Homo sapiens: one gene and its partners. The protein of the gene in region 3 purifies or fractionates together with the protein of the main gene of each other region. This does not show direct contact. Each region holds a gene or a part of one and is shown on either strand. Other genes may lie near its edges.

Region 1 (4,300 bases), on a different chromosome or scaffold from region 3:
CTATTTCCTACCTATAAACAGCTCAAGTGTAGTATTCACTCACTACCAACCTTCTCTCCTATCAGTCTTCAATTCACTGCAATCCAGCTTTCACCTCTATCTCTTTACTGACATTGTTTCGCAATGGTCGCCAATGTCTTCTTATACCCAATGACTTTAGTCTTCATCCTACTAAACCTCATCAACGTGTAACAGCATTGTCTACATTCCCTTGCACCAAACTCTCTTTTCCCCTACTTTTCTCCCCTAACATTGGGCTGCCACAGTTTTCTTCTTCACTTCTACCTGTTTTTAGTTTAATCATTCTTCTTCACCATTCCCTTAAATCAAGGATTCTTCAAGACCTGACCTTAGTCCACATTTCATCCCTTCTTAACATAACACTGATGTCACTTTTATGCCCCACCTTGTCTTTTTTTTTTTTTTTTTTTTTTTTTTTTTTTTTTTTTTTTTGAGACAGAGTCTTGCTCTGTTGCCAGGCTGGAGTAGAGTGGCGCAATCTGGGCTCACTGCAACCTCTGCCTCCCGGGTTCAAGTGATTCTCCTGCCTCAGCCTCCTGAGTAGCTGGGACTACAGGTGCGTGCCACCACGCCTGGCTCATTTTTTGTATTTTTAGTAGAGACAGGTTTTCACCATGTTGGCCAGAATGGTCTGGAACTCCACACCTCGTGATCCACCCGTTTTGGCCTCCCAAAGTGCTGGGATTACAGGCGTGAGCCACCGCACCTGGCCCACCTTGTCTTTTTTTAACCTTACCCCCTTTAATGTATGTAATCAGCTGTAGGTGATATCATCTGTAATCTTCTGAGGATATGTCAGGATATAAGTAAATATTTAACCACATGGTCTCTCCTGAGGAGATTCACACACTTTTAATTATTTTCTTTCTCTAGAGAACTAAATGTACCTGACCTCTCACAGAGCTTTCAGGTGGCTGCCTGCTAGACCGCTCTCTATGTCCCTGTCCCATAGATAAATCAAACTCAACATAACTAAAATGGAACTTAATCACTCCTACCAAAAGCAGGCTTCTGTAATACCCCCTAATTGCACTTTCACTCTCATCTCTTCCCTCAAATCCAGTCTGCATACAGTAGTGCCCAGAGGGATCTTTTAAAATGAAAATCACATCTATCACTTCGTGGCTTAAAACCCACCAGTACCTTCCATTTCTACTTAAAATCCAAACTCCTAAACTATGGCCTACAAAGGCCACACAGTCTGGTCCTATCTACCTCTCCCAATGTCATTTCTCAACTCTCTCCTACTTCTACAGGGCACTTTAGATACATTGGCATTTTAAATGTTCTTTAAACAAGCTCTTTCCCATCTTTGCAGTTCTTTCTGCCTGCCTTGTCTTTTCCTTGGCTAATCACAAGGCTGGTTCTTTATCATCATCAAGGTTTCAGCACAAATGTAACTCCTACAAGGGCCCAACGACCAACTAAGTTAAAGTTACTCCCAAACATCTCCCAATCATTTGTCATCCCTCTTCAAGTTTTTTCTTCATAGAATCTATCATCAAAATTGATTATTTACTTGCTTTTTATTTTCTCCCACTAGGATATAAAGTCAACCGAAGCAGGGGCCTTATCTGTCTTATATGTAACAGTATCTCTGGCATCTAAAACAGTATTAGGCAAATAGTAAATGGCACAATAAATATTTGAATGATGAAAAATAAGTAAACTGCTCCTCTTGAATTTGCAATTTGAATTAATGGTGTCTCATTGTTAGCAGCCAATATTCTAAAACTTGACTTTCCACTCCATGCCCCTGTAACAAGTCCTGTTGATTTTCTGTCTTTGGAACCTGACTCTCTCTACCTCTTTCTCTTTTTCAGGCCATAGACTCTCCAACTCCTGCAACTGTCTGGAATTTCTTCTCTCTCCAATCCATCTCTAGTATTGATGACATAGGTAACTTTCCACAAGTCACACCATACCAAGTGCTTTACATCACCTGTTTACGTACTTATCAAATGGCAATATAGATTACAGATATATATATAAACACACACGTATATATCGGGTATGTCTACTTGGTATTTTAGGGGAAAAAACGGGTGCTGATACATAGATGGAAGACATTTTCTGATTCCAATTTGGGAAAAATAGTCTATCTTTGGTCAGGTCTTTTTTTTAATAGCTTTACTGAGGCGGTTTTCTAATTTTAAATAATCAAGCATACACAACAAACAGTGTAATGACTAAGGTTCTTGGCATACCATAGGAAACCATAACCCGGCTCCAACCCACACTGCCATTCTCATCTCTACAGTCTCATTCCCGCTTGCGTTCTCATCACCCAGCACATTACGTCAGGGTATGTTTAACACTCAAAAATCCACAAGTCTGTTCTTGACATGAATGAGAATCTCATTTCTTTCAAAATGCTATAGTCTCTAGTTACAGAAGGAGCCTGATCAAAACAACCACCAAAAGTCTTCCACTCACAGCAGTTCGGAGCCGAAAAGTTGCGGAAATGAGGCCCAGCAACGGTCCCTGGCTTTGATTTGCCAAAATGCTCTGGAAGCCGCAGCGTCGGCGCCTGCCCACCACTGCTTCTTCAGGGGTTTCTTCAGTTTGACAAATTACCAGCGAGTGATATTTCTTGGTGAAAGAAAAAAATCACAACCCTAGAGGAATAAGGTGGCAGGGAGAGTGTTTTGGCCAAGATGCCCGCCACGAAACAGGAAAGCGGAGACAGCGCCAACTGTAACCACTAAGAGAAAGCGCAAACCGCACAAGACCAGTTCAAAACCAGCGCCCTCAGGGAGCCGCTTCAGAGCTCCGCAACAGGGAAGACAGGAAGTCCCGCCCCTCCACAACAGGAAGGGCCGGAAGTCCCGCCCCTCCACTCCGGAGGCTGCCCTCGCTGCGTTCCCTACGAAGGGCGGAGCAGGAATTGGTGTAGGAAGGGGACGGGTGTTTCCTTGTTCGGAATGGGGTTGGCTCCTCTTTGATTTTTTACTTCTGGTGACCCACGCAAAAGCAGTCCCGACCTGGTTGTATTAATAATAAAGGCTGTAAGGATCAGCCTTTTGAACGGTCCAGCCGAGAACTAACCACAGAGCGCGTTTTAGTGGAGTGGTACTTATTTTTAAATAAGGTAAAAAACGATTATACTTCAGTAAAGCTGTTTAGAAAAAAAAAAACTTGGCCAAAGATGGAGAACTCTTCCTAATTTGGTATCAGAAAATAGGTCGTCTATGTATCTGCACCTTTTTTCCTTATAAAGTGGCAAATAAATGTGTCTGCTATATTTATTGCCACTAAACAAGTGTTTATGGAACACTCACTGTGTGTTTAGGCATAGTGGGGATAAAGCAGGGAAGGTGGCCCAGTTCTTTGCGGGTGAGGATCAGAGCTAGAGATTAACTGGAAAGAAAGAATAAACAATCATTTATTACAGTTGTGAGTGTTTCTAAGATAAAATACAGAGGTTTGTGAGAGCATAGAGAGGCATACCTTGTTTTATTGTGCATTTTATTGTGCTTTGCAGATACTGAGTTTACTACAAATGGAAGGTTTGAGGCAACCTTGATGGAGCAAGTGTATGGGTGCCATGTTTTTCCAACATCATGTGCTCACTTTGTGTCTCTGACATATTTTGGTAATTCCCACAATATTTCAAACTTTTTCATTATTTTTGTATCTGTTAGAGTGATCTGTGTGATCACTGATCTTTGATGTCACTACTGTAATTGTTTTGGGGGACCACAGATCATGCTCATACATTATAAAATGGCGAACTGAATCTGTTACAGGTAGTTAGGCATGAGCAAGGCAGGAGAGGGCTCTCCCCTGCCACCCACCCACTAGAAATGTTGGGTGATGGTTCAGCAATTATCACATGGCCTCTCTAAAAATGAAAATTTGGCAGCGCCAGGGAAAGGCCATTTCCTGATGGCCCACACCTGTTAACATCAAAATGTTAATTGAATGCAGGCCCCAGAGAGAAGCAACTTCCTGGGCATGCCGGTTAAGAGACAAAAGTGATGAAGTATGATTTTTCTGATACACTCCACCGGAAAAAGGAAGAAAGCCTCAGATGGGCATGTGTATAAATCCATAAAATCACTGTGTGTGCTCACTTCCCAAGGGTAAAGAGGGCTCTGAGCATGCAGGGAGCCCATCCTAAGATCATGGTTAAATGCGGCACTTGACCTTCTCTCTCTCTCTCTCCTTTTCTTTTTCTTTTTTTTTTGAGACGGAGTCTCACTCTGTCGCCCAGGCTGCAGTGCAGTGGCGCGATTTCAGCTCACTGCAATCTCCGCCTCCCGGGTTCAAGCAATTC
Region 2 (3,500 bases), on a different chromosome or scaffold from region 3:
ACACTGACATTTATCAGACACTTATTATACACCGATGTTCTTCCACCTTGGTTCATTGGTACTTGGGGCTGGAAAATTCTTTGTATTCAGGGGATGCTGTCCTGTCCTGTACACTGTGAGATGTTTAGCAAAATCTCTGGTCTGTATTTACTAGACGTCAGTAGTACATTCCTCCCAAGTAATGACAACCACAAATGTCCCCAGACACTGCCAAATGTCAATTAAGTGTCAAAATCATCACCAGTTGAGAACCACTGCCTTATACTATAAACTTATTCTATTTTTCTTTCCTTTTTTTTTTGAGACAATCTTGCTCTGTCACCCAGGCTGGAGTGCAGTGGTGCCATCTCGGCTCACTGCGACCTCTGCTTCCCAAGTTCAAGCTATTCTCCTGCTTCAGCCTCCCAAGTAGCTGGGACTACAGGCGTGCACCACCATGCCCGGCTACTTTTTGTATTTTTAGTAGAGATGGGGTTTCACCACGTTGACCAGGCTGGTCTCAAACCCTGACCTCAAGCAACCCACCCACCTTAGCCTCCCAAAGTGCTGGGATTACAGGCATGAGCCACCACACCTGGCCCCACTTTCTTTTTATTTTATTTATTCATTTATTTTATTTTATTTTATTTTATTTTATTTTATTTTATTTTAGAGATGGGGTCTCACTATGTTGCTCAGGCTGGTCTTGAACTCCTGAGTTCAAGGGACCCTCCCACCTCAGCCTCCTGAGTAGCTGGGACTACAGGCATGTGCTACCACACCTGGCTAAAATGTTTACTGAGCATTATTTACAGCAGAACACTGCTGTCTGATAGAAATACAATGTGCCCAGACTGGCCAACATGGTGAAACCCCACCTCTACTAAAAATACAAAAATTAGCTGGGCGTGGTGGCGCATGTCTGTAATCCCAGCTACTCAGGAGGCTGAGGCACGAGAATCACTTGAACCCAGGAGACGGAGGCTGTGGTGAGCCGAGATTGTGCCCCGGCACTCCAGCCTGGGCCACAGAGCAAGATGCTGTCTCAAAAAGAAAAAAAAAAGAAATATAATGCGTATAATGTGAGCCCAATGAGCCGTCAAGTTTCCTAGAAGCCACATTACATATGTAGAAACAATAAGAATTTAGTAATATATTTCATTGACCCAAGACATATCCCACTCTTATTTTAACATGTAATCAACATAAAAATATTATTCATAAGATATTTTACACTGGTTTTTGTTGTTTGTTTTTGGACCAAGTCTTTGGAACCCTGAGTATATTTTACATTTACAGCACATCTTGGTTCTGATCAACCACATTTCAAGTGACTCAGTAGCCACATCTGGCTGGTGGCCACCATATTGAATAGCACAGGTCTACAACATAGCTAGGATGGATGGATGGATGGATGGATAAATGGATGAATGGGTGGGTGAATGGATGGATGGATGGATAAATGGATGAATGGGTGGGTGGATGGATGGATGGATGGATAAATGGATGAATGGGTGGGTGGATGGATGGATGGATGAATGGGTAGGTGGATGGACAGATAGATGGATGGGTAGATGGGTGGGTGGGTGGATGGGTGGATAAGTGGATGGGTGGGTGGGTGGAAGGGTGGGAGGATGGGTGGGTGGGTGGATGGATGGGTGGATGGAAGGGTGGGTGGATGGGTGGGTGGATGGATGAGTGGGTGGGTGGATGGATGAGTGGATGAGTGGGTGGGTGGATGGATAAGTGGGTGGGTGGATGGATGAGTGGATGAGTGGGTGGGTTGGTGGATGGATGAGTGGGTGGGTGTGTGGGTGGATGGATGGGGGGTGGGTGGGTGGATGGATGGATGGGTAGACGAGTGGGTGGGTGGATGGGTGGATAGGTGGATGGGTGGGACGGTGGGAGGGTGGGTGGATGGATGAGGGGGTGGGTGGGTGGGTGGATGGATGGATGGGCGGGTGGATGGATGAGTCGGCGGGTGCATGGATGAGTGGGCGGGTGGACGGATGGGTGGATGGGTGGGTGGGTGGATGAGTGGGTGGGTGGGTGGATGAGTTGGTGGGTGGGTGCGAGGGTGGGAGAGTGGGTGGGTGGGTGGATGGATGAGTGGGTGGGTGGATGGGTGGATGGATGAGTGGGTGGGTGGGTGGGTGGAAGGATAGATGGGTGGGTGGGTGGATGGACGGACGGATGGGTAGATGGGTGGGTGGGTGGATGGGTGGGAGGGTGGGTGGGTGGATGGGTGGGAGGGTGGGTGGGTGGATGGCTGGGTGGGAGTGTGGGTAGGTGGATGGATGGGTGGGTGGATGGATGGATGGGCGGGTGGATGGATGAGTGGGCGGGTGGATGGATGAGTGGGCGGGTGGATGGATGAGTGGGCGGGTGGATGGATGGGTGGATGGGTGGGTGGGTGGATGAGTGGGTGGGTGGGTAGGTGGATGAGTTGGTGGGTGGGTGGATGGATGGATGGGTGGATGGGTGGGTGGATGGATGGGTGGATAGGTGGATGGGTGGGTGGGAGAGTGTGTGGGTGGGTAGGTGGGTGGGTGGATGGGTGGGTGGGTGGGTGGATGGATGGGCGGGTGGATGGATGGGCGGGTGGATGAGTGGGTGGATGGATGAGTGCGTGGTTGGATGGATGAGTGGGGTGGGTGGATGGATGAGTGTGTGGGTGGATGAGTGCGTGGGTGGATGGATGAGTGGGGTGGGTGGATGGATGAGTGGGGTGGGTGGGTGGGTGGATGGATGAGTGGGGTGGGTGGATGGATGAGTGCGGTGAGTAGGTGGGTGGGTGGATGGATGGATGGATGGATGGATGGATGGATGAATGAATGGGTGGGTGGAAGGATGGATGAGTGGGTGGATGGATGGGTGGATGGATGAGTGCGTGGGTGGATGGATGAGTGGGGTGGGTGGGTGGGTGGGTGGATGGATGAGTGCAGTGGGTAGGTGGGTGGATGGATGGATGGATGAATGAATGGGTGGATGGATGGGTGGATGGATGGATGAGTGGGTGGATGGATGGGTGGATGGATGAGTGCGTGGGTGGATGGATGAGTGGGGTGGGTGGATGGATGAGTGGGGTGGGTGGGTGGATGGATGAGTGCAGTGGGTAGGTGGGTGGGTGGATGGATGGATGAATGAATGGGTGGGTGGATGGATGGATGAGTGGGTAGATGGATGGGTGGATGGATGGATGGAAGGCTGATTGAGACAGGATCTCACTCTGTTGCCCAGGCTGGAGTGCAGTGGCGTGATCATAGCTGACTGTACCCTGGAACTCCTGGGCTCAGGCAATCCTCCTGCCTCAGCCTCCTGAGTAGCTGGGACTACAAGCCCATGCCACCACACCCAACCATTTATTTATACCATGACCTTCCCTGCATCCAGTCATTTAATCCTTACGACACTTATTATTATACCCCTTGTACAGATGAGAAAACCAAGGCCTGGAGAGCTGAGATAACTTGTCCAGGATAAAAATGTCCAACATGAACTTGAGTTTCCCTCACACATCA
Region 3 (3,500 bases):
TTTGCCACTCTAGTAAAAACATTTAAGAAACCACTTGAAGAGACTGTTACTGAGAAACTCTCTATCTTTCTCACACTACTATCCATATAACTGTCCGAATGTAGAGTTATGCTATTAACACATTACTTTCAGTATTCCATAATTATCATTGGCCATGTCTATATACAAGTGTATTTCAAAAGTGTTACTATTCTTGTTAAACCATTTGAAATTACATATTTCCACTTATCATGGTTTAATTTTAATCTAATTTCACCAAGCCAATGTTTTACATCCCAAACATCAGGAGATGTGCTGTGCATTATACAAAACTTTGGGCTGAATCAGTTGTTTCTAGCCTAAGAGTCTGGCTGATTATATAACTTGGCTGCACTAGATTCAAAGGAAGAACTTAAAAAATAAAAATAAAACCTACTCCTGGTTATTTTGATTCGGCAGGTATGAGGTAGGACAAGGAATTGTTTAAGTGGCCCAAGGGATTCTTCTAAGTAGCAAATATAAGAAATAATGAATTAGATGAATTTTAAAGCCCTTTTCAGCTCCCTGTGATTCAAAAACTCAAATCTGAATTGCAAAATCTCACATATCAGGCAGCCATTTAGGGAGCTATATTTCACTTAGAGTCTTACCTGATATACCTGAAATTATACCCTATTGGTAATCACTAACTTTGACAGCCAGCCTTTTAACATAATGATGCTACCTGAAAACCAGAACTATCAAAAATAGCCAAGGAACATAAAGCTAAATATCTAGATTTATTTTCAATTTTTTTGATACCTTGATCATGAATCAAACTGAACCAAGTTGTCAAAAATGATTGTATAAATACTATAAAGTTCTTTAAAAAAATTTCAACAACCAATTTAATATTGATTGTAGGTCAAATTTAGTTTCTGACTAATAAAATACCTTTAGTTAATTTTATTTTCCAGAAAGCCTATTAAGATATGATACTTAGTTGCCTCACATCTATCCAAAATATTATAAATAAGTATGTAAAAATACAAAAGAGAACAAAAGACATACATAGCTTTAATGCTTTCAGTGAGGTTTGTTTCAAAGGAGAGGAACTGTTTTCCTCTTTTTGTGAAGCCTCTAATCTCAGATGCTGCAGCAATAAAAATTTTCTCCTGAGGTGTGTTGATAACCCCTCCCAGTTCCAGCCTTGCAATCTTCGGCCCGGGTAAAGTCTTGAACACTGCCTGAAAAAAATCATTCAGGAAAAAAGTACACAAATTACTTTATTGTGAGCATTTTTTCCTTTACAATAGAAAATGTTATGATGTTAAATTTGCAAAATATTATAGTTCCACTATATAGAAATAATTTTAGATAATAATCTATATACTTCAGCAGGTCTTCAGGTTTTTTGCTATACTTAACTTTTAAATATATATTCCCACACATATTTGAATGATGTCATTGAAATCTAAATCCTTGTAATTCAAAGTACAGTTCACTAAGCAGCAATGTTAGCATCACTAAATTTATTTAAAATGCAGCAGATCAACTGAATGAGAATCTGTATTTTAACAAGATTCCCCAGCTGGTTCCTATGCCTACTGAAGTTTTAGAGGCATTGGATTAACAATACTCCTACGAACAGGGAAGTCCATTTGGCAAATTCTTTAATGAGGTCCAATGAACATGTTTTTACACTTCAATCATCTTTTAAAACTAATCTTTCCTGGCTTCTTTACAATTTTTATAAATTTTAATAGTTAAAGGACTATAGAATTTACTGAAAATGTGAATGTATGACTTAATACCTATAATCATATATCTATTTAACTGAAAACAATATTCATTTCATTAATTTTTTTGTGGTTATTTTCCATTTTATTATTTGCACCAGCTTCTTCTCCTCCACTTCCTCCCCATGACTTTATATACAGAGAATAAGATATCTGGGAGAATATGAATAATGGAAACACTGAGTTTCTGGTAGTTTTTATTCTCTTCATCTTTCTGGAAATTCCATATAATATATAATGAATACTAGAATTCACATCTCAGACTCATCATTCTAAGTTTCTAATTATGATCTGTAAATATGATAATGTAATAGTAATAACTTCCTTGATTAGGTTAAATTAAGTGGAAAAGGTTGTGGGTTAGTTGCTTCCATGATTACATTATGCTACATAAGATTCTTTCTTAGCAGACTACAGAAATTTCCTGCTGGCTTTGATGAATTAGATTACCATGTTGTGAGAAGGACTGTAAGAGAACCACAGAGCAAGAAATTGCAGAGACCTCAAGGAATTGAGAGCAGCCCCTGGTTTACAGATGTTAATAAAGTGGGGACCTCAGTCCTATAATAGCAAGGAACTGAATTCTGCAAACAACCACATGAGCTTGGAATAAGACCCCACACTCTAGAAAGGAACACAGCTCAGCTGACATCTAAATTGCAGCTGTGTGAAACCTTGAGCACAAACTCCTGTGCTACAGAAACTGTTAGATAATAAATGTGTGTTGTGTTAAGGCCCTAAATTTGGGGTAATATATTACACAGCATAGAAAAGTAACCCACGACCACAGGATGCCAAAGGTGCCTTACAACTAGCTAGCAAATTACTTTTGTGCTACCCGCAGACTCATATCTCACATAACTACTTACCTCAGAACCCATTTTCCATTACCTGTATTTTAGGAAATTTTTAACCTAGTATTATTCAATAAATAGTGCATTCTCTTTTAGAAAACCATTTTTCCCCTTCACAAAGCTATACTTACTGCTGCTTCTCCTTTCTTCATGCCAAAGCACATAACTACCCCATCATGATCTCCAATAACCACCTGTAATAGATGGAAGATAATCTAAAATTACTATTATTAATATTATGACCTAATAATTATATACAGGGAAAGCAAGATTCTTAATTTATAAATACTGACTTAATAGAGATCAGAAAATCTAGGAAAGACACCCCCACAAAAAATAATCCTCAAAAGAACAAGAGCCAAAAGAGAAGGATATGGAGAGTCATTAGAAAAGTAATTGGCCATAGATTTTGTTCCTATAATGTTAATAGGACAACACAATATATTTTGTTTTGCTTTTTTTCAACTTTTATTGTAGGTTCTGGGAGTCCACATGCAGGTTGTTACGAAGGTATACTGCCAGACAACAGTTATGGACAGAAATGCCTACAAAGTAATTTTTTTTTCATAACTGGAGCATAAGAACATTTTAAGATTAACTTTTAAAACAGATTATCAAATAAAGTTGTGACTGACATATTTAATAATTTTAAACACCTTTTTTAAAAGAAAAATTTTAATGTATGAAAATGTACACAAAATATTATAATGAATTATCATGTGCCTATCACCTAGTTTCAACAATTACCAACATGTAGACAATGAATTGTTTTGAAATAAATATAGAGGGACATTTTAACACTTCTTCCTCAAAAGTAGATATCAAACAACCTTAGACCAGTTCCAGTACGTGGCCTGCTGGGTACCAGGCCACACAGCAGGAGGTGAGC
Region 4 (3,500 bases), on a different chromosome or scaffold from region 3:
CTGTATCGGCATTTTGAAACTCTTCACTTTTTCTAATGAGGCTGGAGAGTATACTAATTCCTTATTGTAATCAGTGAATTGTTTTTAAATATAATCACCCATTACAGCCACACGTATAGATTTTGCCTTTTCAACAAAATTCCTCTCTGTACACATCTTCCATTATTTAAAAACGCTACAAGTGAGCATTGGTTGGACCAAATGAGTAAAAACAAGGAAGAAAACTAAAATAATCTGTACAGTGACTACCTATAGAGCTTTTTTTCTTTCTTTTAAAAAAAATTTTAAATACAGATAGGATCTATGTTGGCCAGGTTGGTCTTGAACTCCTGGTCTTAAGCAATCCTTTTGCCTTGGCCTCCCAAAGTGCTGGGATTACAAGAGTGAGCCACCGCACCAGCCTTACTTTTTTTCTAGTTCACAAAAATGCAATCATACTAATAACATGCTTCCACAGGACAACATATGCACATTTCAACATTGTATTCTGTTCATGCATACACCACCGTTCATTCAACTAAGCAATCCCCTTGCCTTAGATTTTTAACAATGCTAAATGAAGTTTCATTAAGTAAATCTTGGTACACAGCCTTCAATGTTTCTTTAGAATGCCTGAACAATTACTAGATCAAAGGCTTTAGAGACACATTTCCAAGGATGTCTCAAAATGATTTTGCCTGTGTACATCCAAACCAGTAAAGTGTGAACCCATGTCACTGTACCTCTCTCTCAATGGTGTGTATGTTCTTTAATATTTTTGAAGCATATACTGAGTGGTGTTACTAGCAACTGTTTTTTTTTTTTTTTTTTTTTTTTGAGACGGAGTCTTGCTCTGTCGCCCAGGCTGGAGTGCAGTGGTGCAATTTCGGCTCACTGCAAGCTCTGCCTCACGGGTTCACGCCATTCTCCTGTCTCAGCCTCCTCAGTAGCTGGGATTACAGGCGTCCGCCACTATGCCCGGCTAATTTTTTTGTATTTTTTAGTAGAGACGGGGTTTCACCGTGTTAGCCAGGATGGTCTTGATCTCCTGACCTTGTGATCTGCCCACCTTGGCCTCCCAAAGTGCTGGGATTACAGGCGTGAGCCACCATGCCCGGCCCTAGCAACTGTTTTGTGCTTCCGAAATCCTGGTAATTTTTTACATTGCACTGCATGTGCAAAGCTTCACTTATGAGTTTTCTGTATGGAGAACTGCTGTGGCGGGGGGTGGTCAGGGATATGAGAAGCAAAAATGGCAACAGAAGTAATGTGCCAGATCCTTGTGTTTAATGCTCTACATAAGGCAAACGATGCAGACTTCCTTAAGAAGATGATCAGACATGAATTATAAATAACAGTGTAAGACAGACTGCCAATGATCCCCAGAGATCCCAAGTCACAGGTCAAGTAAAACCTCACTACGAGTGACTCATAACTTCTTTTTCAGATGTGCCTACAATGAACCAAAAGGGAACATTCCAGCCAGGCATACTCTTACCACCTACCTTTTCATGCGCTCCTGTTCACTAGTGTCCAAAGCTCTCAGGGTTCGGGCATAAAGGACGACAATGTCACTGTGCCTGGCTTTCTTGTTGCACTAAAGAACCCAATAGGACATAATTAGAGTGGTTCTAGGAATCTGCCTGACTTAACATGTTAATGTGTCCTTACCTATGGTCCTTACCTGGGGACATTTTCGTACTTGTCCTTTAAGCCACGTGGAAATGCACCTATACCCAAAGAGATGCCCACAGCGTAATGCTGAGAGCCGGTGGTCCCCAGCATTGGTCCACTGTTCCAGACATATTGTACAAGTGTCCCCTTCTTCCTCATCCATAGAAGCAGAAGGTAGCAGAGGCTCAGACTTCTGGGGAGATGGCTAGATGGAAAGCAGAATATATTCAAATTAGAGAAAATGTAAAATCAATCTTGAAGAAGATGTGCAACTAAGAAATTAACAGAAGTGCAAAAAAAATGATACAATCAAAAGGGCTACAGAACACTTGTAACACCTATGAATCACTTGTCATTCTTTCTAGAATGCAATGTCACAAAATATAAGCTATGAAAACTATACTACTCTTAAATCTTATAAAATTCTTGGATACTTTTTCCTTCACTCAAAGGAAGAAAAGCAGCTATCCATATAAAGAATAGCAGCTATAAAATATTTAACTCATGTGTACCAGAGGGCAAAAAAAGAAAACAAAGGATACAAATGCTTACAAGAAAACACAATGGTCAATAAGTGTTTGCTTATAATTAAAGAAATGCAAATTAAAGAGACCATTTTTCATCTATCAGACTGGTATAAATTGATGTCTGATGACACCAAGCACTGTTGTGGGTAAATGAGATATGGACATGCTTATATACTGTTGCCTTAAATGTAAAGTGGCACACATTTCTGGAGCACCATTTGGCATTATCCATGAAAATTAAAACACATATATCTTTCCTTTGGCATAGCAATCTCTCTGCTAGAGATACCTCATGGATATATAGTCATGCATTGCTTGACAATGGGAATACATTCTGAGAAATGCGTCTTTAGGCGATTTCGTCATTGAATGATCCCAGAGGTACTTAAATAAACCTAGACGGTGTAAACTATTACATACTTAGACAACAAACCTGTATAGGATGTTACTGTACCAAATACTGTAGGCAACTGTAGCACAGTGGTGGGTTTCACCATGTTGGCCGGGCTGGTCCCGAACTCCTGACCTCAAGTGATCCGCCCGCCTTGGTCTCCCAAAGTGCTGGGATTATAAGTGTGAGCCACTGCGCCCAGCCTGGTATTATCATCTAATGGGACAACCATCATACATGTGGTCTGTCATAGACTGAACTATTATGCAGCCCATGATCATAGTCACAAATATTTTCTTTTTTTTTTTTTTTTTTTTTTTTTGAGACAGACTCTCGCTCTGTCGCCCAGGCTGGAGTGTAGCGGCAGAATCTCGGCTCACTGCAAGTTCCGCCTCCTGGGTTCACACCATTCTCTTGCCTCAGCCTCCTGAGTAGCTGGGACTACAGGCGCCTGCCACCAAGCCCGATTTTGTGTATTTTTAGTAGAGACGGGGTTTCACCGTGTTAGTTAGGATGGTCTCGATCTCCTGACCTCGCGATCCGTCCGCCTTGGCCTCCCAAAGTGCAGGGATTACAGACGTGAGCCACCATGCCCAGCCAGTCACAAATATATTCTAAGATAATTATATAAGATTGTTCCAAGCAGGCCAGGTGTAGTAATCACACCTACAGTCCCAGCTTATTGGGAGGCCAAGGCAGGAGGATTCCTTGAGCTCAGGAGTTTGAAACCAGACTGGACAACATAGCAAGACCTTGTCCCTGTTAAAAATTTAAAAAATTAGCCATGTGTGGTGGCACATGCCTGCAGTCCCAAGTAGTCAGGAGGCTGAGGTAGAAGCATCACCTGAGCCCGGGATATTGAGGCTGCAGTGAGCTATGATTGTGCCACTGCACTCCAGCATGAGGGACAGAATGAGACCCTGTCTCAA

The links. Proteins that work in one complex are often made in the same cells at the same time.
Region 1: the proteins of BBS7 (region 3) and C5orf34 purify together in Homo sapiens (affinity purification with mass spectrometry; 2 studies listed by BioGRID and IntAct, with this or other methods). This does not show direct contact.
Region 2: the proteins of BBS7 (region 3) and CAMSAP3 purify together in Homo sapiens (affinity purification with mass spectrometry; 2 studies listed by BioGRID and IntAct, with this or other methods). This does not show direct contact.
Region 4: the proteins of BBS7 (region 3) and RFWD3 purify together in Homo sapiens (affinity purification with mass spectrometry; 2 studies listed by BioGRID and IntAct, with this or other methods). This does not show direct contact.

What each region holds. Positions count from the first base shown.
Region 1 is NC_000005.10:43,512,349-43,516,648, forward strand, and holds the start of C5orf34 (uncharacterized protein C5orf34), read right to left. Parts: upstream 2,801-4,300; 5' UTR 2,458-2,800; exon of another isoform or gene 1,845-2,457; intron 1-1,844.
Region 2 is NC_000019.10:7,598,863-7,602,362, reverse strand, and holds part of CAMSAP3 (calmodulin-regulated spectrin-associated protein 3), read right to left. Parts: intron 1-3,500. UniProt on the Homo sapiens protein: Key microtubule-organizing protein that specifically binds the minus-end of non-centrosomal microtubules and regulates their dynamics and organization.
Region 3 is NC_000004.12:121,860,475-121,863,974, forward strand, and holds part of BBS7 (BBSome complex member BBS7), read right to left. Parts: intron 2,806-3,500; coding exon 2,743-2,805; intron 1,206-2,742; coding exon 1,030-1,205; intron 1-1,029.
Region 4 is NC_000016.10:74,642,878-74,646,377, forward strand, and holds part of RFWD3 (E3 ubiquitin-protein ligase RFWD3), read right to left. Parts: intron 2,788-3,500; exon of another isoform or gene 2,614-2,787; intron 1,859-2,613; coding exon 1,664-1,858; intron 1,577-1,663; coding exon 1,485-1,576; intron 1-1,484. UniProt on the Homo sapiens protein: E3 ubiquitin-protein ligase required for the repair of DNA interstrand cross-links (ICL) in response to DNA damage. Plays a key role in RPA-mediated DNA damage signaling and repair.